4 separate regions of the Homo sapiens genome follow, and all the other regions are linked to region 1. The links come from fine-mapping of genetic effects on gene expression. A gene starts in region 1. Each other region holds a variant in brackets. All regions are shown on one strand. Distances are from middle to middle.

Region 1 (6,296 bases):
AGGTATCAAGAATGGAAGACACAAGGCTCAGAGCAGCAGCCTCAACAAAAAGTCACAGTCTCTTTCCGAATTTCCTGATTTGAGCCACTTTGCCAATCCAGAACCCATTGACTGGTGGAGAGGCAGGACTGCCAGTAAGAAGGACCCTGCAATCCCATAGCAAGAATATATGGTAATGACCTCCCCGCACCCCACCCTACTCTCAGTCTTTCCCTTAAGGGACCTATAGCCATTCGCTTGGAAAATCATACACTGAGGAAAAGAGAATGCCCAAATACTTGGAGGGCTGTGGGACATGATCATTATTGATACCCATGAACCCAAAATATTATGACTCCTGGTTAAAGCAGAGGTATTCAGAAGCCAGAGAGTTAAGGGAGTCCTTGTCCAGGTCTGGCATACAGTGGGTCCACCGAACACATAGACTTACGTGGTGGTCATTTTCCTAGTTCCCAAATATATAATTGAAATGAACATCCTTGGTAGTTCTTACAATACCCACCTCAGCTCCTTGGCCTGTAGGGTAAGAACTATCAACGCGGGCAAGGCCAACAGGGAGCAGCCTCAAATTGTACAGCCATGACAGTGAGCAAGAACAATATAGGGGAATGATAGATATTAGTGCTTTCTTTTTGGCTCCCTTTTTATCTCCATTTAATTCATCATACTTGACCTACAAAAGCCTAACAGTTCCTGGAGAATAAACAGCCGACTACTGCAATCAACAAAGTAATAACCCCAATTAGAGCTGCTGTACCAGATGTGAAATCTTTACAAGAGCAGAACAACATGACCTCAGGCAACAGGTTTGGGGTGATTGATATGATGACATGTGCTTCCCCAACCTTAACAGAAAGTAGAATCCAAAAGTGCTCATATTTAATTAGAAAAAATAATAGAAAATACTTGCAATGTTGACCCAGAGCTAAGCTGTATCTCCTTAACCTCTATCATAATGTATTCCCAAGAGACCTGAAGTGTCTGGACATGCTGCAGAACATCCACTGTTCTACTACAGTGATGGTATTATGCTCACCAGATTGGATGAGTAAGGATTTGGCAAACAGGTTGGAGGCCTTGGTGAGATATGTATACTTCAGAATGTGGAAGAAAATTCCTGCAAAATGTTGATGCTTCACTAAATCAGTGAAATTTAGGGATTCTATGATGCAGGGCATACTTTTGTGTGTCCTACTTAAGAAAGATCTGCCTACTTTGAAATCATGTTTTCTTCCACTAATATTTATTATTTTACTTTCCTATGTAAATAATGATTCATCTGGAATTTAGATGAATTCTAATTCATCTAAATGAATTAGGGGGATCAGTCTTCATTTCCTGTGTTATGTTAACACATTTCTTGTGTCACGTTAATAAACGGGATCATTTATTTGTGGGGTGGGGTGGGGTCACATGAGACTTTCCTTTGTTGCCCTGTAATCACCTTCGAAAAATCAAATTACCTTATGTGTCCACTTTTTTTAGGTCCCTCTATTCTGACTCATTTGCCTGTTTTCTATCCTTGTACCAAGCAAACACTGACTTAATAACTGTAACTTTATAATAGATCTTAGTATTTCATAATTTAAATATTCCAGCTTTGTTCTTCAAAATTGCCTTGGCTATTCTAGGCATTTGCATTTCCATATAAATGTTAGAATCTGCTCATCCATTTCTACTCAAAAAAAGCATTTGAGATTGCTGAAGTTACATTGAATCTATAGAACAATTTTGGGGGAAATGACATCTTAACAATCTGTGAACATGATCCATTATCCTTGCATTTATTTAGGACTTTTTAAACTTTCTGTCAATAATGTTATGTAGTCAATCATGTTTTGTATTACATAGTTTGATCGATGTATTACCAAGCACTCGATTATTTTGGTGCCATTATAATTAAACATGTAATTTTCTATTTATTTTCTGGAATAAAGGTATACAATTAAATTTTGTATCTAGATATTGTATCTATAACCTTATTAAATTCATTTATTAATTAAAATAGTTTGCCAACAGTTTTTTTGATTTTCAATATAGGCAATCGTGTAATTTGTGAATAATGACTGTTATTTCTTCCTTTCCAATCTGAATGTCTTTTGTTACTCTTTCTCCTTTATTGCATTGGCTAGAGCATCTAAAGCCATGCTGAAAATAAGTGGTAAGAGCGTGTACATCCTTGTTTCATTACTGATGTCATGGGGAAATGTTCAATAATTTACCTTAAGTATAACGTAAACTGTAGTTTTTTTTGTAAATGTCCTTTATCAGATCATGGATGTTTTCTCTATTCCTACTTTGCAGAGAGGTTTTTATCCTAAATGGGTGCTTAATTTTATCAATTTCTTTGCTACTATCAAGATAATCATGATTTTTCTCCTATTTAAAATTATTATGATGAATTACATTTATTTTTTCCCCCAATGTTAACCCACCCTTTTGTTTCTGGATAAATCTCACTTAGTTATGATTATTCTTTTTATACTACTACTTGATTCAATTTGCTAATATTGTGCTTAGGAGTTTGCATCTATGATGATAAGAGATTGGTAAACCAGCCTTTTTTTTTTTTTTTTTTTGAGACAGGGTCTTGCTCTATCGCCCAGGCTAGAGTGCAGTGGCATGATCATGGCTCACTGCAGCATCGAACTCCTGGGCTCAAGTGATCCTTCTGCCTCAGCCTCCTGAGTAGCTGGGAATACAGGAGCATGGCACCAAGCCCTGCTAACTTTAAAATTTTTTATAAAGACAGGGTCTTGCCATGTTGCCCATGCTGATCTTGAACTCCTGGCCTCAAGTGATCCTCCCATCTTGGCCTCCCAGACTGCTGGGATTAAAGGAGCGAGCCATGGTGCTGGGCCTAAACAAGCCTTTTTAAAGTGACTTTTCCCCCCTATTACAGAATGCTTTTGAAAGCCAAAATGTATGTGATCAGGAGTGTGCTCTCAGATGTTTATTTAGTAGTGCGCAGGATGTAGACTACATTATGTGGGACGTGGGTGGTGATGGGTTGGGAAGCTACTGGAATTAGGAGGAGAGCTTGAACCAGCTTGAGACAGGTGGAAGTGGAAAGGAAGGGTATTAAATACAGGAGACTGCCCAGTATTTAGCATGTGATTAGCTGAAAGTGTGGCATTATGAAATAAAGACGTTAAGACAAGTTGATTTGAACTTAGAAAAGAGTAAAAATAATGAGTTTACTTCGAGGTGAAATCCTTATCTTCATCATTATTATCACCATTACTAGATTCCAAAGGAATACCTGCAATTTAAGAAACTGCAAACGCACGAAACTACATAACTGGTAAGTATTTTAATGCATTTAATTAAAAATTTTCCTTATGTTGCTTTGGAGTTAGTTTTTAAAATTCTTTTCGTTCATAATCAGGAAAGGTAGTAACCTTACATTCAGCGACACCTTAGAAACATACCCTTTTAACGCAGCACATTTCAATACAGATTGTGCTGTTCCTTTTCCAACCACCAGGTGGCGGGCAAGCGCCCAAGTCGCACTCCCGCCTCATCCAAGGCAGCCTGCGTGGCTCCCGGGAGCGCGCACGTCCCGGAGCCCATGCCGACCGCAGGCGCCGTATCCGCGCTCGTCTAGCAGCCCCGGTTACGCGGTTGCACGTCGGCCCCAGCCCTGAGGAGCCGGACCGATGTGGAAACTGCTGCCCGCCGCGGGCCCGGCAGGAGGTAAGGGCAGAAGGGAAGCCTCGGGGCCTATTTTCCCGGTAGCGACTGCCTCGGGGGAGGGCCTGCGGGTGATTCCTGCGTCGCGTCCGTTCCTGCCCGGGGACGCTGCGGAAGCGGTCGCAGAAGCGGCGAGTACGCTGTATGGCAAGCGCATATTCTTCCCGGGCAGCACGGCGGCTGTGAGCTGGAATTCAGCGCGGGCGGTGGGGTGATTGCGGCGCCCCCTGGTGGCAGTCCTCCGCGCCCCTCCCCTGACTCCCCCTCCCTCCCAGCCTCACCCCCGCGCCGTTGCAGCGCTAGGGCTGGATGGCCTGCGGGTAAGCGGCAGCAGGCGCCTAGTGGGAACCCCCGGCAGGAAGTTAGCATGGGCGGACCACACGGGGGCCACACATGACTTGTGAAGAACTACTGGACAGTTTGGGGAAATGACTACCACGAAAAGGCTTACTTTCAGTTTTGTTTCAGACTCCTTTTCCACAATGTCATCAGAACAATGGGAAAAGTCGATTTTTTCCCATTCATTTCCAGCGGTGTGAAATGTGATCACATGTTAATTGGTTGCCCGTGGTGGGTGTGAAGGGTCTTGTCCTCGGGAAGTTTACATGATGATTGGCAAAGATCTATGTAGAGACTAAATGGACTGGCAGGGTAAGAGAGTATGGAGAGCGCCAAACTAAATAAATTTTATACTGTGAAGACTCACAGGTCAAGGCGTCCCTGGAGACCTGGCTCTTCTGGACTCCCTACTCTTTATCTGCCCTAATCTCCCTGCCACTCGGGTAATGAAATTATGCTCCCAGACTCAACTCCGCATGTCTCCAATATATATACTGTTACTCCAACAACTTATGATTTACAGCAATTTTAAAAGAAACTGATAACCCTTTCCCACTGATTGGAGATGTTATCTTTAAGATAAAAACAAATTTTCAAAAAATGTACACGTGCATCTTAGTCTGGACTTTGTTGCATTGGTCTGTGTTGTTTACTCATGGTCCAGTACCATACTTTTAGTTTTATGGCATATTTTGCCATCTGGTAGGGCAAGCTCCTATTATATTATTCACATTTTTCTTGATTTTTTTTTTTTTTTGAGACGGAGTCTCACTCTGTCACCGAGGCTGGAGTGCAGTGGCACTGTGTCGGCTCACTGCAACCTCCATCCCCTGGGTTCAAGCAGTTCTCTTGCTTCAGCCTCCCAAGTAGCTGGGATTACAGGCTTGAGCATCTTTTTTTATAGTTTCCTGATATTTTTGTTTATCAAGTTCCAAACATAATATTGTGATTGTTGCTAGGTAATACATTAAGTTTTTAAGTTAATTTGAGGGAACATTGACTCCTTTCAGCATTGCTTTCCCTTTAGAAAAATGATGTAGCCTTCTATCTGTTTAGATAACCTTTTTTTCTTTTTCTCTTTTTTATTGTATTTTAAATTTTGTTGTTGTTACTCCTGAAACACCATAGTTAGATAACCTTTGATAGCCTTCAGTGAGGCTTTACTGAAAACACAAGTTTGACATATGTAAAGTTGACTAACATTTGAATAACAAAGGTGTTTTATTTAATATTTGTCATACCTATATCATATACACTTACATGTATGTGTGTGTTCGTGTACATGTGTATGTGTCTATCAACTTATCTTTTTTTAAAAAAAAATTTATCTCAGGAGAACCATACAGACTTTTGACTGGCGTTGAGTACGTTGTTGGAAGGAAAAACTGTGCCATTCTGATTGAAAATGATCAGTCGATCAGCCGAAATCATGCTGTGTTAACTGCTAACTTTTCTGTAACCAACCTGGTATGTTACTAATTTTATTTCACTAGTTTCCAGTAAGGGGGTTGAAATCACAAAATATTCTCTTGGTTTGTATGTGAGAGAGAGTTCACAGGATTTGTCATTTTATAGAGCTGTGTAGACTTTTTTAATGTTAACAAAATTAAATACTTATATTGTGGCAGTGGTACCAGTGGTATTTGTTCATTTTGAGATTTGAAGTTTCTATTTCAGTAATTTACTCTTTGTTTTAGTTAGAAACTCAGAGGAAGTAGGACATAGTTATTTTTATTTGCTTACTAAACATTTATTGTTTACTATTAGTTTGGTGCAAAAGTAATTGCTGTTTTTGCCATTAGCAGTAATGTGTTTTTATGTGTCAGTAACTGTGCCAACCCTGCGAATAGAACAATGAACAGACCTTCATGACTCTGGCTCTTAAAGAGGTTATGTAGCTGTGTGGAAACGGGCATTTCTCATATAATACAAGTTTTTGCAATGGGAATTGATTTGTTTTATTAGGGAAATGCTTACTTATGCCCCACAGCTCCTTTAAATGGCTTTCAGTTTGTTTTGATCATAACCTTGGGTGATAAAAGTGCTAAAAAAAATACATAGGAATATCTGTACTCATGATAACGCTGGTGGTAATAAGAAAGATGAGCCATTATTTTAATCAAAGATTGCATATATGCGATATGAATTTCTTCAGTTTTATTTAGGTTTTGTTTCTGTTCTTTTAGGTATAGAAAAACATTTTGGAAATTTCTACAGAAAAAGTAAAATTGTTACTGTAAGTCAGAAACACTAGCCTATAACCT
Region 2 (6,570 bases), 110 kb after region 1:
TGTCAGTATCATTTTCCATCCTCACATGCAATACATGATAGTTTCAGTCACTCAGTATCCTCACCAACACTTAATGTTAGTCAGTCTTTTGATTTTAGACATTCTGGTGATATGTAGTGACATCTCATTGTGGTTTTAATTTGCTTTTCATGAATTATTAATATTGTTGAGCATCTTTTTGTTTTGTTTTGTTTTTGAGATGGATCTCACTCTGTCACCTGGGCTGGAGTGCAGTGGTGCGATCTTGGCTCACTGCAGCCTCCACCTCCAGGGTTCAGGTGATTCTCCTGCCTCAGCCTCCAGAGTAGCTGGGATTACAGGCGCCCACCACTACGCCCAGCTAATTTTTTCAATTTTTAGTAGAGACGGCGTTTCACCATGTTGGCCAGGCTGGTCTCGAACTCCTGAGCTGGTGATTCACCCGCCTTGGCCTCCAAGAATGCTGGGATTACAGGCATAAGCCACCACGCCTGGCCGAGCATCTTTTTATGTGTTTATTTGCAATTCATATATCTTCTTTAGTGAAGTGGGTATTCAAATCTTTTGCCCATTATTGGGTTGTTTGTTTTTTATTGTCTTGTTTTTTTGTTTGTTTGTTTTTGTTTGTTTTTTTTGAGACAGGATCTTACTCTGTTGCCCAGGCTACACAGTAGCCTCAAACTCCTAGGCTCAAGTGATCCTCCTGCCTCAGCCTCTTGAGTAGCTAGGACTATAGGCACACACCAATATGCCTGGCTAATTTTTTTTTAAAAATGTTTGTAGAGACAGAGTCTCACTGCATTACCCAGGCTGGTCTAGAACACTTGGCCTCAAATGATCTTCCTGCCTTGGCCTCCCAAAGCATTGGGATTACAGGTGTGAGCCACTGACCTGGCCAGTTTAGCAATTCTTGAAAAATGAATTTTATTAGGAAGAGACATTGTGGGTTTATCAAACATCTGGAGTGGTTTTTTTTTTTTTTTTTTTTTTTTTTTTTAGACAGCGTCTCACTCTGTTGCCAGGCTGGAGTGCTATGGCACCATCTCCGCTCACTGCAACCTCCGCCTCCCAGGTTCAAGCAATTCCCCTGCCTCAGCCTCCCAGGTAGCTGGGATTATAGGCGTGCACCACCACGCCCAGCTAATTTTTGTACTTTTAGTAGAGACAGGGTTTCACCATGTTGGCCAGGATGGTCTCAGTCTCTTGACCTTGTGATCCACCCACCTCAGCCTCCCAAAGTGCTGGGATTACAGGCGTGAGCTACCATGCCCAGCCTGGAATGTTTTTAAAAACATTTATTCTCTATAATTTTCAAACATGTTTAAGCTAATAACCCTCTTCCATTAAAATATATTTAAATTTCTACTTTAGAAGTAATATATGGTCATTACAGAAAATTAAGAAAAAGGGTATATATTTCTGTAAAAAAAAAAAAGAAAAGAAAATGAGTCCAGATGTGATGGCTCATACCTGTAATTCCAGCACTTTGGGAGGCCAGGGTGGGTGGATCACTGGAGGTCAGGAGTTCGAGAGCAGCCTGGCCAACATGGTGAAATTCCATCTCTACAAAAAATACAAAATTAGCCAGGCGTGGTGGTGCACGCCTGTAGTCCCAGTTACTTAGGAGGCTGAGGCACAAGAATTTCTTGAATACAAGAGGCAAAGTTTGCAGTGAGCTGAGATGGTGCAACTGCACTCCAGCCTGGGTGACAGAGCAAGACTCTTTAAAAAAAAAAAAAAAAAGAAAGAAAGAATAAAAGAGAATTAGAGATATAAGAAGCATACCACTAAATGTAACAACTGTTAATATTTTGTATATTTCCTTCTATAATATACATATATGTACCGATATAAACATATACTAGATATATATACACATACTTTTAAAATTCTGATTTTATTAAATATTCTTTTAAAATCTTATTTTAATAATTTCCTAATAGTGTACACTATTGTTTTATATCATAACATTTAATTATATTCCTTCCTGTTGAGCATTTAGGCATAAAACATGGGATTTACTAACTTAAACATCAAAACCAGGTAAGTCCCATTCTGAACTCTTCTCTTTGGGTTTTTTTGTTTGTTCATTTGCTTGTTTTCTCTTTTTTGAGACGGAGTCTTGCTCTGTCCCGGCTGGAGTGCAGTGGCCCGATCTTGGCTCACTGCAACCTCCACCTCCCGGGTTCAAGCAGTTCTCTTGCCTCAGCCTCCTGAGTAGGTGGGACTACAGGCACGCATCACCACGCCCAGCTAATTTTTGTATTTCTGTATTTTTAGTAGAGACGGGGTTTCACCATGTTGGCCAGGATGGTCTCGATCTCTTGACCTTGTGATCCGCCCACCTCGACCTCCCAAAGTGCTGAGATTACAGGCGTGAGCCACCGCACCTGGCTCTTTTCTGTGTTTTTATCCCGCAGTGTACTACAGGTTTGGGTTGGCTCAGGGTTGAGGTCTTTTTGTATCAAATCCAGTTGTCCATTGAGAAAGCTAGATGGTCATGGCCATATCTCTATCACAGTTCTCTTCCTCCACTCCAAATATACGGCCAAGGTCTAATATAAAACTCTTTAAATGAAAGAGTGGAAAGCAAACCATGTTGTGTTCTAATGGATGTTACATTCACAGATTATATTAGAGATCAGGCTCCTCCCTGCTTTAAGAGACATAAGGAATTCATTTAAGGTAAGTTATTTCTTACCAGAAAAACAAGTTCTTTATCTGGAATGACACAATCTTTAAATAAATAAAAGAATTTGAGTATGCAGTGTTGTCTTTCTGCAGAGAATGTCTTAAGAAAAACTAATTTGTTCTGAAAATTGAAACATGGAAACGTGGACAAACAGCTAGAAAAAAATTTTTTTAAGAAAAATTTAAGACTCATATTTCCCTTATATACTTTTTAAAAATCAACCTCATAATTATATAAATAAGACAGAGCTTAATGGCTAGCTAAGCTAGGTCAGAAATAAAGCAATCCAAATGAAAATTTAGAAATGTGGTTGGTAATGGGAGCACAAGGGGCTGGATGGGAACAGGGAGTGAGAAGGAAAGCTCACAACAGTCCATTCCTAAAGCCCTCTGCAAAGACTCTTCACACCTCACTGAAATGGGGGAGGGCTCTACCCTAGGACACAGATGGGTTTACAGCAAGGACACCTAGCCACTTCCAGATATCTCAAATGTCCCACAGGCTTCTTCCCTAGATGAACCCTTAATGAGACCTTGGATAATGTGGAAGTTAGAACAGTGAACTACATCTTGAGATTGTTGTCCCAGAGGTATTATGGTAATTTAGTGAAAGCAGCTGAAAGCAGGGTTGAGTGTGTGACTGGCATGATTGTCAGGGGTCGGTGGGTAAAAATAAGGAAGAGGGCACATGCTAATAATTAACATCAAGCACTTCTAAGAGGATTGTACATATTAATCCATGTATACCTCACACCACCAAGTAAATATTTTTATTATAAAAAGTATTTTATTCCTAATAATAACAAATCATGTTTGTATATCACTCATTGGACATAAGCGAAGCCAAGGAGGATCTAATTCTTGACTTCCCTTCAGATAATAGAGTGTTAACAATAGTTTTTAAAGGATGGGTAGATTACTACTTAACGCGGAATGAGAGGGTGCAGCCTGACCAGCTCAGAAAGCAACTAGGCTTCTC[A/G]TTTACATTCTGGGAGCAGGTGGATTTTTGCCATCTGAGCTTGTTACTGGTGAGTGATTACCTTTTTACCTTCTATATTTAGTGCCTTCCTAGGACAGTTGCTTCTCCCAGGCTAGTTGCTTCTTTTAGAATCTTACCTGGCTATTTATCTAAAGATTGGACAAGCAGTGTAATCCAGAAGCAAAAATGTTGACTTTTCTTTTTACTTAAATCAAGAGATTAGAAAATGCTATTTCCTGGGAAGTGAATAGAAGCACACACTTAGCTTGACCACTGTCCCAGAGTGCTTTACATATATTAATATATTTAGTCCTGACACAACCCAGTGAAAATCCCCATGTACAGTATAAGGAGATTAAATCACTTACTCAAGATCACATAGCTCAGAAATGGTGAAATCAAGATTCCAACCTTCAAAGTCTGGACCCCCAGTACACTCTAAACCACTATACTCTGAAAACATCAGTGCCATATGCACCTAGTCATGTATACTTGGAGAAATCACTGCGTATCTCAGTTTCTCTACTTTTCTTCCGCTGATTTACCTGCCTTAGAAAATTGTTGAGCATGGGAAATGATCATATATATATGAACGTGTATAATGCTACAAGATACTGTTTTAAGCATAAATATCTAGCAGTTGTGAGATCTCCCTTAATGATGATGTTATGCTACTACTTCTTTTCACTACTGTTGGAACTCCCAGAGCTGACTCTTTACATGCCTTTTTCAGAGTGTATGTTTTAGGACAAGATGGGGTTCAGGGGACAGTGAGCATTGGACAGCAGTCAAGAGGAGTTTGGTTATGCCTGTTGGTTGACTTGGTGCTGGTTTGTGGTCCGCTTCTCCATTGCTTTTTATTTTAAATCAGTGGCTGCTACTGCCAACTACCCTGGTACCTCTGAGTGCCATGGTTCTTGCACTGCCAAGGTTCTTGCACTGCCACAGATTAGGACCAAATATTGGGGAGAGATTATTAAATGGTAAGGATAAGGGGATAGAGTGATCGCTCTGAAGTAGGGCTAGAGGCAATATAGTTGAGTGAAAAGTAAAATCACAGCAGTAGGCATGTGATTAATATAAAAATCACTTAAAAATTAGCCAGAATATTAGGCTAGAGAAAGAGGAGGGAAAAAAGTATCTTCCCTTCTTCCTAGTCCTGTGACTATTCAGTTAACACAACAGTTCTGAGACTAGAAATGAATTGTAATAAAATAATAACCAAACCTCCTGCCAGACTAGAAGAAAATATAAAACCTTGTAGTTCACAGTTTTCACTGATCTTAAAATTTACAACTTTTGATCAGCATCCTGATGATGTTATTTTAATTTTAGATATCTTAGTAAATACAACTCCATAACTTAAGTAATTCTTATTAAGAACTAGAATTGATTTTTAAACACCTAAGAAAAAGCATAAATCCAATAAGCTGGCTTAAATAATACTTTAATTTTTGCTATTTGTAGTGTTATGCTCTTTGCTAAGCAAATTTTATTTTATTCTTATTTATTTATTTATTTATTTTGGAGACAGGGGCTCACTCTGTCCCCTAGGCTGGAGTGCAGTGACACAATCACTGCTCACTGCAGGCTTGACCTACCGTGGCTTAAGCAGTTCTCCAACCTCAGCCTCCAGAGTAGCTGAGACAACAGGCATGCATCACCACAACCAGCTTGTTTTAGTAGAGATGAGGTTTCGCTACGTTGCCCAGGCTGGTCTCGAACTCCTGAACTCAAGCAATCCACCCGCCTCAGCCTTCCAAAGTTCTGGGATGGCAGACATGAGCCACCACGCCTGGCCTAACAAATTTTAAGATTCTTTTGTTATTCACATGCTTACTGCTGTGGCTTTATTTATTTTATTTTATTTTATTTTATTTTATTACTTATTTTTTTTGGTTGAGATGACATCTTGCCCTGTTGCCCAGGCTGGAGTGCAGTGGCACGATCTTGGTTCACTGCAACAACCTCTGCCTCCTGGGTTCCAGCGATTCTCCTGCCTCAGCTTCCCGAGTAGCTGGAACTACAGGTGCCTGCCACCACACCTGGCTAATTTGTGTATTTTTAGTAGACACGGGATTTTGCCATGTTGGCCAGGCTGGTCTTGAATTCTTGACCTCAGGTGATCCCCCTGCCTCGGCCTCCCAAAGTGCTGGGATTACAGGCGTGAGCCACTGCGCCCAGCCTATTTTTGACACTCACTATAGTTTTGGTTCTTGTGGATTGTCAGATATTACACTGAACAATTGGGACTTTTTTTTTTTAGATTGTACAAATAGAACATTTGCCACAGTTAAAATGTGAAGAAAACATACTATTTCTATTTTGGAAAATTTCTGCAGAATGTTTTTCTAAAAGACAAAGCATGTTTCATTGTTTACTTAAGGCATAAAGGTCCCATTTATATTATTCAAAGGAGGGACTGTAGGGCTTGGGGAATATAAGGTATTTGAAGCAAAGAGGGGTTTAAGAAATAACTCAAATGATTAAGATTTCCAGCATGGAGTTTGTTTAGTGATTTCATCAATCAGTCGCTATTTCTAGATGGAAATGGGTCTAATAATAATGCAAGCTTTTAGGATTTGATTATATTTTAGACAAAATAAGTTTAATACCAAAAAAAAAAGTTATCATGTGTTAGCCGAGTTCCATTTAAAGATCCTGGTATTTTTACTTATTAGCATAGTTCTTTCTGCTTCTGTGGGCCTCAGCTATATGAATGTGGTGCTTATTTGCTTTATACTATATTCCATTTTGTTAACTCAACAGAGACCAGACTGCCAACTGCAAAGTAAGTAATGCAATAAATGGGTTAAAAATACACCATGTCAATTTTGTACAGCTAAATTAAATAAAATATATGACTACAGGTTCACAAACCCTTACCTGAAACTTTAACAAAAAATTTTTGTCTGCTTGCT
Region 3 (5,000 bases), 43 kb after region 1:
TGGGAGGCCAAGGCAGGTGGATGGCTTGAACCCAGGAGTTCGAGACCAGCCTGGGCAATATGGTGAAACCCTAACTCTACAAAAAAATATATAAAAATTAGCTAGGCATGGTGATGTCTGCCTGTAGTCCCAGGTACTCAGGAGGCTGAAGTTGAAGGATCATTTGAGCCCAGGAGGCGGAGGTTGCAGTGAGCCAAGATTACACCACTGTGCCGGGCCAGGTATCAGAGCCCCAGCACCAGGAAGTGGTCAACTTGCGGGTTGGTGAAAAGAATTTACCGACAACAGTATAGATTTGGAAAAGGAAAGTTTATTAGAAAGGAAGAACACTGCAGAAGAATGCAGAGGGGTGCCTCAGCGAGAGGACTGAGCACACTGTGGCGGATTGTCCTTAGGAGCATTTATGGACCTTAAGGTGGGAGCTTGGGATTGTAAAATGAGTTTCACCATGGCATTCCAGAGATGTATAAAAATTTTAGTTACTTATAAAAGTTGAAAGAGGCCTGGAATCAGAAGCCGACTTTAGATACTAGGGAAGTTTGATTACTTCTAAATTACCCAGATAAGGAGTTTTGCCTCCAGTTAGCCTGTTTGATGGTCACCGGTTGGTCTTTGCCCCCTTCTAAATTGCTTAGAGAAGAAGTTTTGTCTCTGGGGCCTGTTCCATGGTCACCAGGTGATTTTCTCTCTCCTCACACTGCACTCTCCAGCCTAGGTGACAGAGTGAGACCCTGTCTCAAAACAAACAAAAAACCCTCCAAATCAATGACATAGCGTTTTTTAAACTTTTAAAATACTGCTTAGGGGTGAAAATAAATTTAAAATTCTCTTTCTACTTCATATATTGGAATTTTAAAAGCATGTTACAAATATTAAGGAACTGTTACTATTAACAATGTTATTAACTAATAACAAGTATTAACAATGATCTTGATGGGCATTTTCACATGGAATTTTCTTTTCTTAAAGCACCTCTTTACTAGTAAACAATTAAAATATCAATTAGAAGTATAAATTGTTGGCATCCCCAACATCTCCTGCTTGGACTCTGTGAACTGGAAAGTTTTGAAAAAGATTTAAATTTTCATCAATATTAGAAAGGGCTTAAGCTTTGAAGTCATTAGAACAAAATACAGTGCTTTGAATTGTAGTGTTTGTGTTCATCTTGAGTTGCTTTAATTGTTAAATGATAAGGTAAGGCCATTTTAAAATAAAAACTCCAAATGAAAAGTGTTAAATTATTTTTAATACATAAATCCCATGACATGTCCAGATCTGTATATAGTAATAGCTATAAAAGAAGGGCAAAAACAGATGGGTTTAGAACAGAGTTACTGCTCTCACTTTTATTTGTAGAATATAAACATCTTTGGCACTTATGCATGATTTACCATCTTTGCTTTTTAATCTTTTTAAAAAAATGGTCATTTTTGTTTGTTAATATGATTTACTGTACTACTTTTATTATTCAATAGGTCACATATCCTGGAGCAGGAAAACTTCCACACATCATTGGAGGATCAGATCTAATAGCTCATCATGCTCGAAAGAATACAGAACTAGAAGAGTGGCTAAGGCAGGAAATGGAGGTTAGTAGGAAGTGAGGCCCAGAAACTTGCTTAAATTGCACTTTGGTCCATTATGGTGGCCTTCAAGCAAATTCTTCTTAAAACCAAATTAAAATAAGTGACATAAAGTCATTCATTCAGGAGCATTCCTGAGTTACAGAGCATTAATCTATACCCTTCCATAACACTTCTTTAAAAGAATACTAAATTTATTTTTGTTAAAAAAAAAAAAAAAGGTGAGACCTAAGAAATTCAGTTTACATCCTAATGAAAAGGGGGAGATAAAAGCCACAAAAATTTAAGGGAAACTAAAAGAATGTGGAGGATATTACAAATATATCACTTAAATGTATGTCAAGGGACTGGCCTTTTTAAATCTGGGGATTGTGTTTTAACAATTCTGAAAATTTCTTATTCATTCTCTTGAATATTAGTTACCTTTTTACTGTTTTCCCCATTATCTCCTTCTGGAATTCCAACTTAACGTAAGTTAAATTTTCTTTTCCATTTGTCTTT[C/TC]CTGTGTATTTCATTTCTTTGTTTCCCTGGGTTATATTTTTGGCAACTGCTGCAGATCATCTTCCGATTTACTACTACTGTCTTCAACTCTAGTTGGCATTGCATCCGTTCATTTATTTTTTCATTACTGGAAGTCTGTTTTATTTCTTTCTAAATCTTCTTGTTCCTTGCTGTTTTTCAAGCTTCCCCTTTTATATTATTTGCCTAATGATACCATTACCTAAAATGTTTGATCTGTTTTCTGCTCTTATGTACCTTGTTTTCAAGTTTGTGCTTTGTGATTTTTGAATATGAGCTGATTGTTTTCTTTGTAACTCGATCTGTAGGGTTTTCTTGAGTATTAAGTTCAGATGTATTTCCTCTAGAAAAGATACGTTTTCTATCTTCGAGTCTTCTACCAATATGAGACCACTTCAAATTAAAATCTCTCCTTGTGATTCTTTGAATCACCCAGACAGTTAGTATGTATTAATATTTGGACCAGAAGCTGGAGTGAATGAAGGCTGGCTTATCATTAGAAACTTCAAATGAGATTTTTATTTATTTCCTTCACTAAGTGCCAGAATGAAGATGGGCAAGTTTCTTTCCTAGCTCCTTCTGTGTTGTAAGGTTTATTTCTCTTTCTTCTTTTAGTGCTGGGTCTTTTATTAAAGTCAACATCTTGGGTTTTCTTTCGTATCACTCATACCCCGTATAGACATTAAAGCAGAGTTCAGGTTTTTCATGACTTGCAGATACTCATAGGGCAAGGCAAAAGCTGACTGTGGTCCTTGCTAACCTCTCAGGGTTCCTTATTTTGCTTTATAGTGGGTATAGTGTAATTCACTTTTAAAAGTGCTTTTTTCTCAGTTATTTTAAAATAAGGGTTATTTAGGAAAGTCACTTATGAAAGTAGAGTTGTTAAGGTCACTCAGGATACTTATTTTTAAAAAATGAAAGAATGGAAATCACATCCTTTCTCCTTTTCTTTTTTGAAAGAATAATTGGCTTATTTTGTAACATGTGCATTCCACAGAATTATGGCAGTACACAAAGAATGAAGATGTGAAAACCTAAAGCCCAGAAATTACCTATTTAAACAGTTAAGTGAACAATATTCCAGACATCTCTTCATTGAGGAGTAGTGAGAGGCAGGGACAGACTGGGAAGGAAGAGAGAGACATTGATAGGAGGAAGTTAAACTGAAGGCATTGCTGAATTTCTATAAATGTTTCTTCCCTCCAAGATATTTTATTTTGTGAGATCTGTCTAATATTAAGGAGGAAAACTATAAAAATCACTGTAAGTCGGAATGGGTAGTTTTAAACTTCATATTAACTTCACATACAATTATTTGTTGGCTCGCTACAGTGAAAAGTGAGGACATTATTAGTACTTCCTCCCACCTAGCCTCCCTTACCTTATGCCAGTCCTGTTTTTCCCTTTTTAGGTGACTTGCATGCATGACCAGTCATCTTTCTTAAGCTCGAAAGCCAGTAACACTCAGAATACATCTCAGTGTTGATCATTCTCCATTAGTTTTTCCTGACATATAGTATGCTGTTTTGATTTGCAGGTGTAATTCTCTTTCTCAAGGAACTTTTTTCTATTATATATTTTAAATATTTTATATTTGCTGGGCTCTCTATAAGACATTTAAGACATAACTATCCTTTCATTGGATTACCTTTGTCGTCCACATCTATTTTTTCTGCATTCACTGTGGTTTTCTTAGGCTCTTTCACTGTATCAAAATTTTACATTTCAGGTGTGTCTATAATGTTTCTCACCAAGTATGTGACCTTAGGCAAATTACTTAATGTCTCTGCTTCCATCTGTGCAGAATGAGAATAATAATAGTACCTTTATTTCACAGACATATGAGGATTAAATCAGATACTACATATAAATCATTTATAACAGTGGGAAGTGTTAGCTATTTCTAATTTAATTCTGAAAGGCTGTTATTATGGTTCTTTTACTTAGCATTTGTTCTTTTTTCATTTCATTGTTCTATTATCTGATTTTTTGTCATTATTTCATTGCTTTCATGTTTCTATTTTACTTTTTATTCGTGGATTATTATTTCCTGCAGATTAGGTTCTTTATCTGTTTTTTGCATGTTCTGTTCCAATATCCCTTTTTTTTTTTTTCCTCTAGTAGATGGAGTAGCTTTTCTGTTTTTTGCCTTCACTTGAGTAAAGGGAAATGTCTTTTCCAGATATTCTGTTTGCTACATAAAGGATCATATGCCATCTCATGCAGGGATTACATTCAGAAGCCAGTTTGTGAGACAGAAATTCAGTATAATCAAAATTACTTCTAACATTCTTGTCTTGCCCATAAGAACAGAATTCAGCCAGGCACAATGGTGTGGCTCATGACTATAACCCCAGCACTTTGGGAGCAGGAGGATCACTTGAACCCGGGAGTTAAGAGTAGCCTGCACAACATCTTGAGACCCTGTCTCTACAAAAAAATAAATAAATGAAAATTAAACAAACAAACAAAAAAACACAACAAATTAGCGGGTCATGGTAGTGCATGTGCCCATAGTCCCAGCTACTCAGGAGGCTGAGGTGGGAAGATTGCTTGAGCCTGGGAGGTTAAGGTTGCAGTGAGCCATGATTGAGCCCCTGCACTTCAGCCTTGGTGACAGAGCAAGGCCACATCTCAAAAATAATAATAATAAATAAAATAAAAATTAAAGAACAGAATTCCCTCATGCCTCACTGTCAGTATGGCATTATGCTGAAACAGTCAGTGGCACATGGCATATCCCATCTAGTTTCTGTTGTCTGAAGACATTGAATCTGGGAGAGGAAAGGCTCAGCTGGAGCTGTGTGCAGCTTGGGCTAGCTGTCTCCTGGGATTTTAATTAAATGTCCTATACCAGGGAGTGTGCCCTATATAAAAGAGAATAACCTAGCATTATTA
Region 4 (6,570 bases), 100 kb after region 1:
AAAATTGGTTAGAGACAGGGTCTCGCTGTGTTGCGGAGGCTGGTCTTGAGCTCTTGGGTTCAAGCCATCCTCCCTCGTCAGCCTCCCAAAATATTGAGATTTGAGATTACAGGTGTGAGCCACCACGCCTCCTGAACTTGGAATTCTATACCATGCCAAACTATTGATAAAATAATGTGGGCAGAATGAAAAAGAAAATGAAACCCAAACTTTTGAGAAAGCTTTGCCTCACTAATATTCTTTTTTAGGATGTTTCTTGAGAATACAGGCCAAGAAAACAAGGGACTTGTTGAAGGAAATGAAGTGGATTGGGTCTGTGAAACAGTGGAACAAATTCAGAAATGCAGTGAACGCAAGTTCCAGGATAGTTATGCAACAGGAAGCCTGTCTATCCAGATTGAAAGACTTCAGGACTGTAAGAACTGCCTGTAGAAAAAAAGGAGTTCCTGGATTTGCTAGTATTCTGGAAATGTTGGAAGAATCTAGTCTAATGATGCCATAAAGGAAGACAATTCAAGACAAAGTAAAAAGGCAATTTATAATTTAATTGAGTAGGGTATATGACAAAAAGCTGTACCAAAAAACAAATAGAGACATAGAAGGTAACTTTCATGGACAGTGAATACTGTTTACACAGATGTAGCATAAATAGCCTTTACTGATTTTCAAAAATACAGTCCACCTGTAGGCAAAGCAAGAATTGCTTAACTATAGTTACAAAACAGGTTGTAAATGTGAAGCATGATAGTGTAATAAAGGAACCAAAGATGAAGACAAGGGTAAGGGATACAAAATTCTTATCTGGCAAAGTGAAGAGGGATTGTTTATATTGAAGCAAGAACTGTGAGTTACATTATTTAAAGTTGCAAATGTAATAAGTGCAATGCTGACTAGTGATATAATTTATTAGCTGTTATGAGTAGGGAAAATTTGTGGTGGTTTAATGTAGTTAAATCTTCATCTATCTTGGCAGGAAGTGAGTATGCAACATCTAAGATTGAGACATCAAAAATTCACAGCATGAGCAGATTGTTTACAGATGGGGTAACTAAAAACAATGAGGTAAATGTGGTTGCCTCTGGGAAAAACACTGGAGGCATTGGAAAGGGTTGGGTTGGGGGCCTGTTGTTTTTTGCATTCGCCCCCTTGAGTTCATTTGTTCTTTCATCTAACAGACACTTACTGTTTGCCAAACACATGTAAATGAAACGACTTTACTGAAGATTTGAGGACGTGAGATATTTTCTGTCACCACAGTGCCAGATTTAAAATTGAATATTAGAGAAACTTGTTCTTAAAACTTTTTGCTAGGCACTTTATGCCAACCATGTTGCTACCCTCTTCTCTCCGTTCCTCTTACATTCTCATTCTCTAACAACTTTTTCAGTCGTCTCACACCCATACACAGTCTTGTTTGTTGGTGTTATGGGGAACTCACAAATGGAGCCATAAAGAAGAAATATGACCTCTCCTGTGTTTCACCTCCAGTGGGGTTGACGGGAGGTCCCAGGATTTCTGTGAAGGGGATTTGTAGTTTTGGAGTTCCAGATGGTGACAACTCGAGCAGCAAGCCTGATGAGCATATTGAGCAGACTACTAAGAACAGGAATGAAAAACAAACAAACGAACAACAACAACAAAAAAAACACCCTTCTCTTTCCCACCTGTACCAGAATAGTGGCTCTGAACCATGGCTGCATATTAGAATCACCCAAGGAGCTTTTAAAAACATCGATGCCCAGGCACCACCTCTTCCCCTTTTGATGCTCTTCCTTCCAACTCCCACCACTACCAAATAAATTGAAAATGTAGTGAAGGGACCTCAGTCCCATGATTCAAATCATTAATATAAAAGTCACCTGCAATTTCTGCACAATTGATTGAATTGGGCAAAACAGATTAGAGCATTGAACCACTTTGTCGACGATTTTCAACCTGATATTCTAAGGAAGAGAACTTGCTCAGAATTTTGCATTGGCTGTTCCTTCTGCCTGGGACACTTTCCCTTCCTATATGCATAGCTTACTACCTCACCTCCTCAATGAGACTGACCTGCCCGCCAGGCGCCAAAATGGCACTCCCAAGCTCACTCTGCTCTACTTTCTTTTTATCGTAGCACTTATCAGTGTCTAACGTAGAATTTGCCCACTTCTTGTACCTATTGTGTAATGTTTGTTTCCACCCACTAGAATGTAAACAAATATGATCAGGTATTTTTCATTTCATTCACTGATGAAACTTAAGTATCTAGAACAATACCGAACATGACTGAGCACTCAATAAATACTCGTTGAATTTCAGTGGCCTCTCAAATAGCATTTAACTCATTATCTCCATAAAAGATAAGTGTTAACCCATGTTATGTAATATGTTTGGAATGTGCTAGCATTACACGCTTGCATAAAGTTTTTTGAAGAATTATATACCTCACCAGGCAAATATTCTGTACCCCTATGAAGCCTGCTGGATATCTGGGCTGTCAGTCAGAAGATCTGGGCTATAATCTCATGTTGTCTGTTAAATAAATATGTAATATTGATCAAAGTACTTCATTCCTCTCAGTGTCACTTAGGTTATTTATAAAAGAAAGAGGTTGATATAAATGAATTCAATTTTTTTCTCTTCTATTATATAGTACTTTGTGACCACATGTGAGGTTGAAATACAATAAAATGTTAATTTTGTGTTTTTTATTTTCTTCTGATAGCAATTAAAATATGCAGCTATCTCCATATTTCAAGTCCAATTTACTATAGTAGTTAAGAGCTATCCCCTTTGGAATCAGATTGTCTTGATTTTAACCCTTGATTTACTGCTTATAACCTCAGTATTTTTTCTATAATTTTATTTATTTAATTTATTTTTCTGTAGAGATAGGGTCTTGCTATGTTGTCCAGGCTGGTCTCAAATTCCTAGACTCAAGCAGTCCTCCTGCCTCGGCCTCCCAAAGGCCTGGGATTACAACAGATGTGAGCCACTGCACTGGCCCTTATCTCAGTATTAAACAAATTATTCAATATTTCTCTGCCTCAGTACCCTCATCTGTAAAATGAATATAGTAATATCAATTTCAGTAATAATTTTTATATTTATTATGAAATTAAATTAGATAACTCGTGCAAAAACATTTAATACAGTGTGTGATTCATGATAAGAGCTAAATGATTAACTTTTTATGAAATACTAACTTTAGTAATACCTTCTGTTTACATGCATTTGTGAAAATAAATGATGACCAATAAAATGAGAAAAGCAAAGGCTATTTATTCTGAGCTTGCTATAGCAAGGGAGTCGGCCGTTTTCACTGGCATTTTGGC[G/A]GACACTCAAAAGCAGGCAAAAGAGTGGAAAAGCTTCTGGGATGCCCTGATCAGAGGCAGTTGGCATGGGGGTACTGGATACAGGCAAACCAGAAGCAGAGCATGTATGTGATTGATTAGGGTACATATTTGGCTTTATCTAGTTGGTTCTAAGTTGGAAGTGGGGACAACAATTAGGGAAGCTGTCAGTTATTAATCAAGTCCTAACGATTTGGGACTGATTGTTTTGTTTAGCTTCCTGGATTTTCACTAGAGATAGCAACCTGGCTTCCTGCAATTCTGACTTACATCAGACTGGCTTTCTTGACTGTTTATTGTAGATAAGAGGGTTGCTTCCCTGGACAGGTTGCTAAAGGTTGTTGGTCAAAGTTTGATTTTTATATATGTTCTGGCCATTGTCCATTTGCATATTCAGTCTCTCAGCCTTTATTAGCAAAGTTATTAAGAATATTCACCATTGGAAAATTATTTTCATTTTTTTATCAGAGTTTGATTTAAATATTGCTGTATGGTTGGTGCTGTATAAACCTATCCAATCAGTATTTTGCAAATACATTACCTTCCCTTAATCCGTTTTATCTTTTAAAAAAAGGCGTTAGAATAAATACAACTTGGTCGGGCGCAGTGGTTCATGCCTGTAATCCCAGCACTTTGACCACTTTGGGAGGCCAAGTTGGGTGGATCACTTGAGGCCAGGAGTTCGAGACCAGCCTGGCCAACATGGTGAAACCATGTCTCTACTAAAAATAAAAAAAATTAGCCAGGCATGGTGGGATGTGCCTGTAATCCCAGCTACTCAGGAGGCTGAGGCAGGAGAATCACTTGAACCCGGGAGGTGGAGGTTGCAGTGAGCTGAGATCACGCCACTGCACTCCAGCCTGGGAGACAGAGTGAGAGTCCATCTCAAAAAAAAAAAAGAATAAATACAACTGTTCTTTGTATTTTTGATGTTCTTTTTACCTAATCTTCTTCAGTGCTGATGGGTCCTTTGAATTTTAAGATGCAAAATTATATTTGGAAAGGGACCCATTTCCTACATTTCCCCCCAGAGCGTTCAGAATTTAAATTTATGCCACTGAGTAGGATGCTTTTTATAAAGACACTAATATTATTTTTTTCCATTTAAGTGTATTTTTGTTGTTTTGCCCTTTATTCTCTTTTAATTTTAAAAGACTAGTCTCCCCAGTCAATAAAAGTTTGTATGACCTAGCAGTTCTTGCATATGTATAGTATGTATATTCATTGTTACATGGCTTCTTGATTTGGATATCAGTCACAAGAGGTACTTAACAAGTAACAGTGACTTATTGGAAGACTCTCATTCCTGTTGAACATCCACTACAATTTTGCATTTATTCTCTATAGAATTGAAAAAGAACTGTAATGCCAAATATACCAAATACAAGGTTATTTGGAAAGAAAACATGAATTTCCACCATTATATAATTTATTCTTGATATGCTTCTATGGTAGGAGAATAATTATTAACTTGGCATTTTAAGGTATTTAAATTGCAAAACTATTTTTAAAATAAGATAATTTTCATTTATGTAATAGTGATATTATCAGTTGCATAGTATTACTAGAATATCCATATTTTTTCCTTGTTCTGCGACTAAAAACAGATTTTATAAGTACCAGAAATCATAGTTTTAATTATAAATGTAAATTGTTATTTTTAAAATTTTGTTTTAGAATATGTACCAGTCATGACACAGTTAAAATAATGATTTGATTAACTAATAATTACCTGTTACTTTACTATAACTAGGATATTTGAAAAGGGTGTCCTTTTGGGAGAGTGCCAAGAAATGTGCTTGTGTGTATTTTTATGTTAATTTAATAGAAATCAATGAAAACTCATGTTAAGTATGCTAGAAATTTAGTGTGGCATCCAGAGCTCAAAACTAGAGTTTGCAATCAATTTCCAAAAAAGGATGTAAAGCATATCTAGTCTTCCATATGCAATTCCAGGGTGGCAGGGGAAATTAGTCTTTCCTGTTTAAAAAAACATGTATGTAAGAGTTAATCTCCAGAGTTAAGTAACAAAAGACCACCAGAGTTGTAGATAAACTAATGAAAGAAAAGAGATTTGAACTCTATCCATTGAAGTGTTTTTTTTTTCTCATGAGTATATATTTTATTTGCAGGAGGATTCTGTTTGGCTCCTGTACAAATCTGCCTGCTCTGACTTACAATACAGCCTTGTTCTTTCATTGTCATTGTATTCCTTCCTTCCTTACAAATACTTATTTCAAAGTATCTTTACAACTAAACTATATCCTTTTTTCTCTTCCTTGGCTTACAAATTCTCCTATTTGTTGTGTCTGGCTAATACTTTCTTACAGTGATTCACTTATTTCCTTAAACAGATTATAATCTCCAACTGTAAATTCTTCTCCAGCAGGGGGTTGATTTGGGCATTCTTGTTATGTACTCAGGATATGGAATCTGAACCACAGTGTAGTTTCACATTTGCCTCTGCCTAGGCTGATGGATTTTGCCATACCTGGACCAGTTACAATGCAAACATCTCAGTTTAGGATCATTCCACAGTTACCTGCAGGCGGAGGTGCTGGCTTCCAGTGGGTGACTTCTTTTCCACCTAATATTTTAGACAGAGGGCAAAGCTTCCTTACAGTTTCCTAGGCAGGGTCAGTGGCTGAGCTTCTTTCATTTCATGGGATGATCAGCCCCTTACGACTCCTGGTTGTATGCAGGGAATTTAGTTTGGAGATTTTCCTGTCAATTTCAAGCTTGACATTACAACCAAATCTTCCATTATTATATTTGATCCATGTGTTTGTATTGGGAGGAAGGGGTCTTTCTAATATCAGCTTGTGTTGACATGTTAACCTACAATTCATTGATTTATTTAATATTTGTAAGTCTTTCTAATCTTTCATTATATTATTGTTTCTTAGGAGTTCTGATTGGATTTATTAATCATTTCCTTATCACTATAATAACATTTACTTGTATCATGGATACAAAGGTGATGATAAGTAAAGAATTTTTCGTTTTCCCCACCCCCCTTGAAATAGTTGGCTCAGTTTAGTCTAATAATATTATGTGGTTTCTAAATGACCATCATTCCTCGGGCACAGTAAAATTATTTTTTTTCCAAAAGGTTCAAGCCAGAACTTTGAACTTGAATTCACTGCTGGTATGCATAATACTTAATACCTTTATTATTATTTGGCATCTAGTTAACAGCCAATGAAACCACTTTAGCAGAAGCATTTACATTTAA

Which allele goes with the higher level. Positions count from the first base shown, and alleles are read on the strand shown. Sizes are in standard deviations (SD) of each study's normalised expression. Not every link is listed here.
In carriers of allele C in region 3, the expression in Th17 cells of the gene that starts at base 3,554 in region 1 tends to be higher than with TC alone (large effect, 1.0 SD a copy in Schmiedel 2018).

The links. PIP is the estimated chance that this variant, and not a neighbour inherited with it, causes the effect.
Region 2: its variant is the best candidate, but not a certain one, in a credible set for the expression of NBN in whole blood (TOPMed, PIP 0.50).
Region 3: its variant is the best candidate, but not a certain one, in a credible set for the expression of NBN in Th17 cells (Schmiedel 2018, PIP 0.72).
Region 4: its variant is the best candidate, but not a certain one, in a credible set for the expression of NBN in nasal epithelium (TOPMed, PIP 0.69).

The regions. Positions count from the first base shown.
Region 1 is chr8:89,981,925-89,988,220 of GRCh38, reverse strand. NBN (nibrin) reads left to right here and starts at 3,554. Exons shown (of 16, transcript NM_002485.5): 1 at 3,554-3,696; 2 at 5,366-5,499. The coding sequence starts at 3,660. RefSeq lists enhancers at 3,194-3,990, 4,122-4,461 and a silencer at 3,802-4,001.
Region 2 is chr8:89,873,496-89,880,065 of GRCh38, reverse strand. No RefSeq gene overlaps it. Among named protein-coding and RNA genes, the nearest start is that of OSGIN2, 26 kb to the left of the region's middle. The variant A/G (reference allele first, on the strand shown) is at 3,650.
Region 3 is chr8:89,939,842-89,944,841 of GRCh38, reverse strand. NBN (nibrin) reads left to right here. Exons shown (of 16, transcript NM_002485.5): 14 at 1,476-1,589. Among named protein-coding and RNA genes, the nearest start is that of OSGIN2, 40 kb to the right of the region's middle. The variant C/TC (reference allele first, on the strand shown) is at 2,085.
Region 4 is chr8:89,882,031-89,888,600 of GRCh38, reverse strand. It overlaps LOC124901974 (a long non-coding RNA gene), which reads left to right. Exons shown (of 2, transcript XR_007061001.1): 2 at 1-2,547. Among named protein-coding and RNA genes, the nearest start is that of OSGIN2, 17 kb to the left of the region's middle. The variant G/A (reference allele first, on the strand shown) is at 3,318.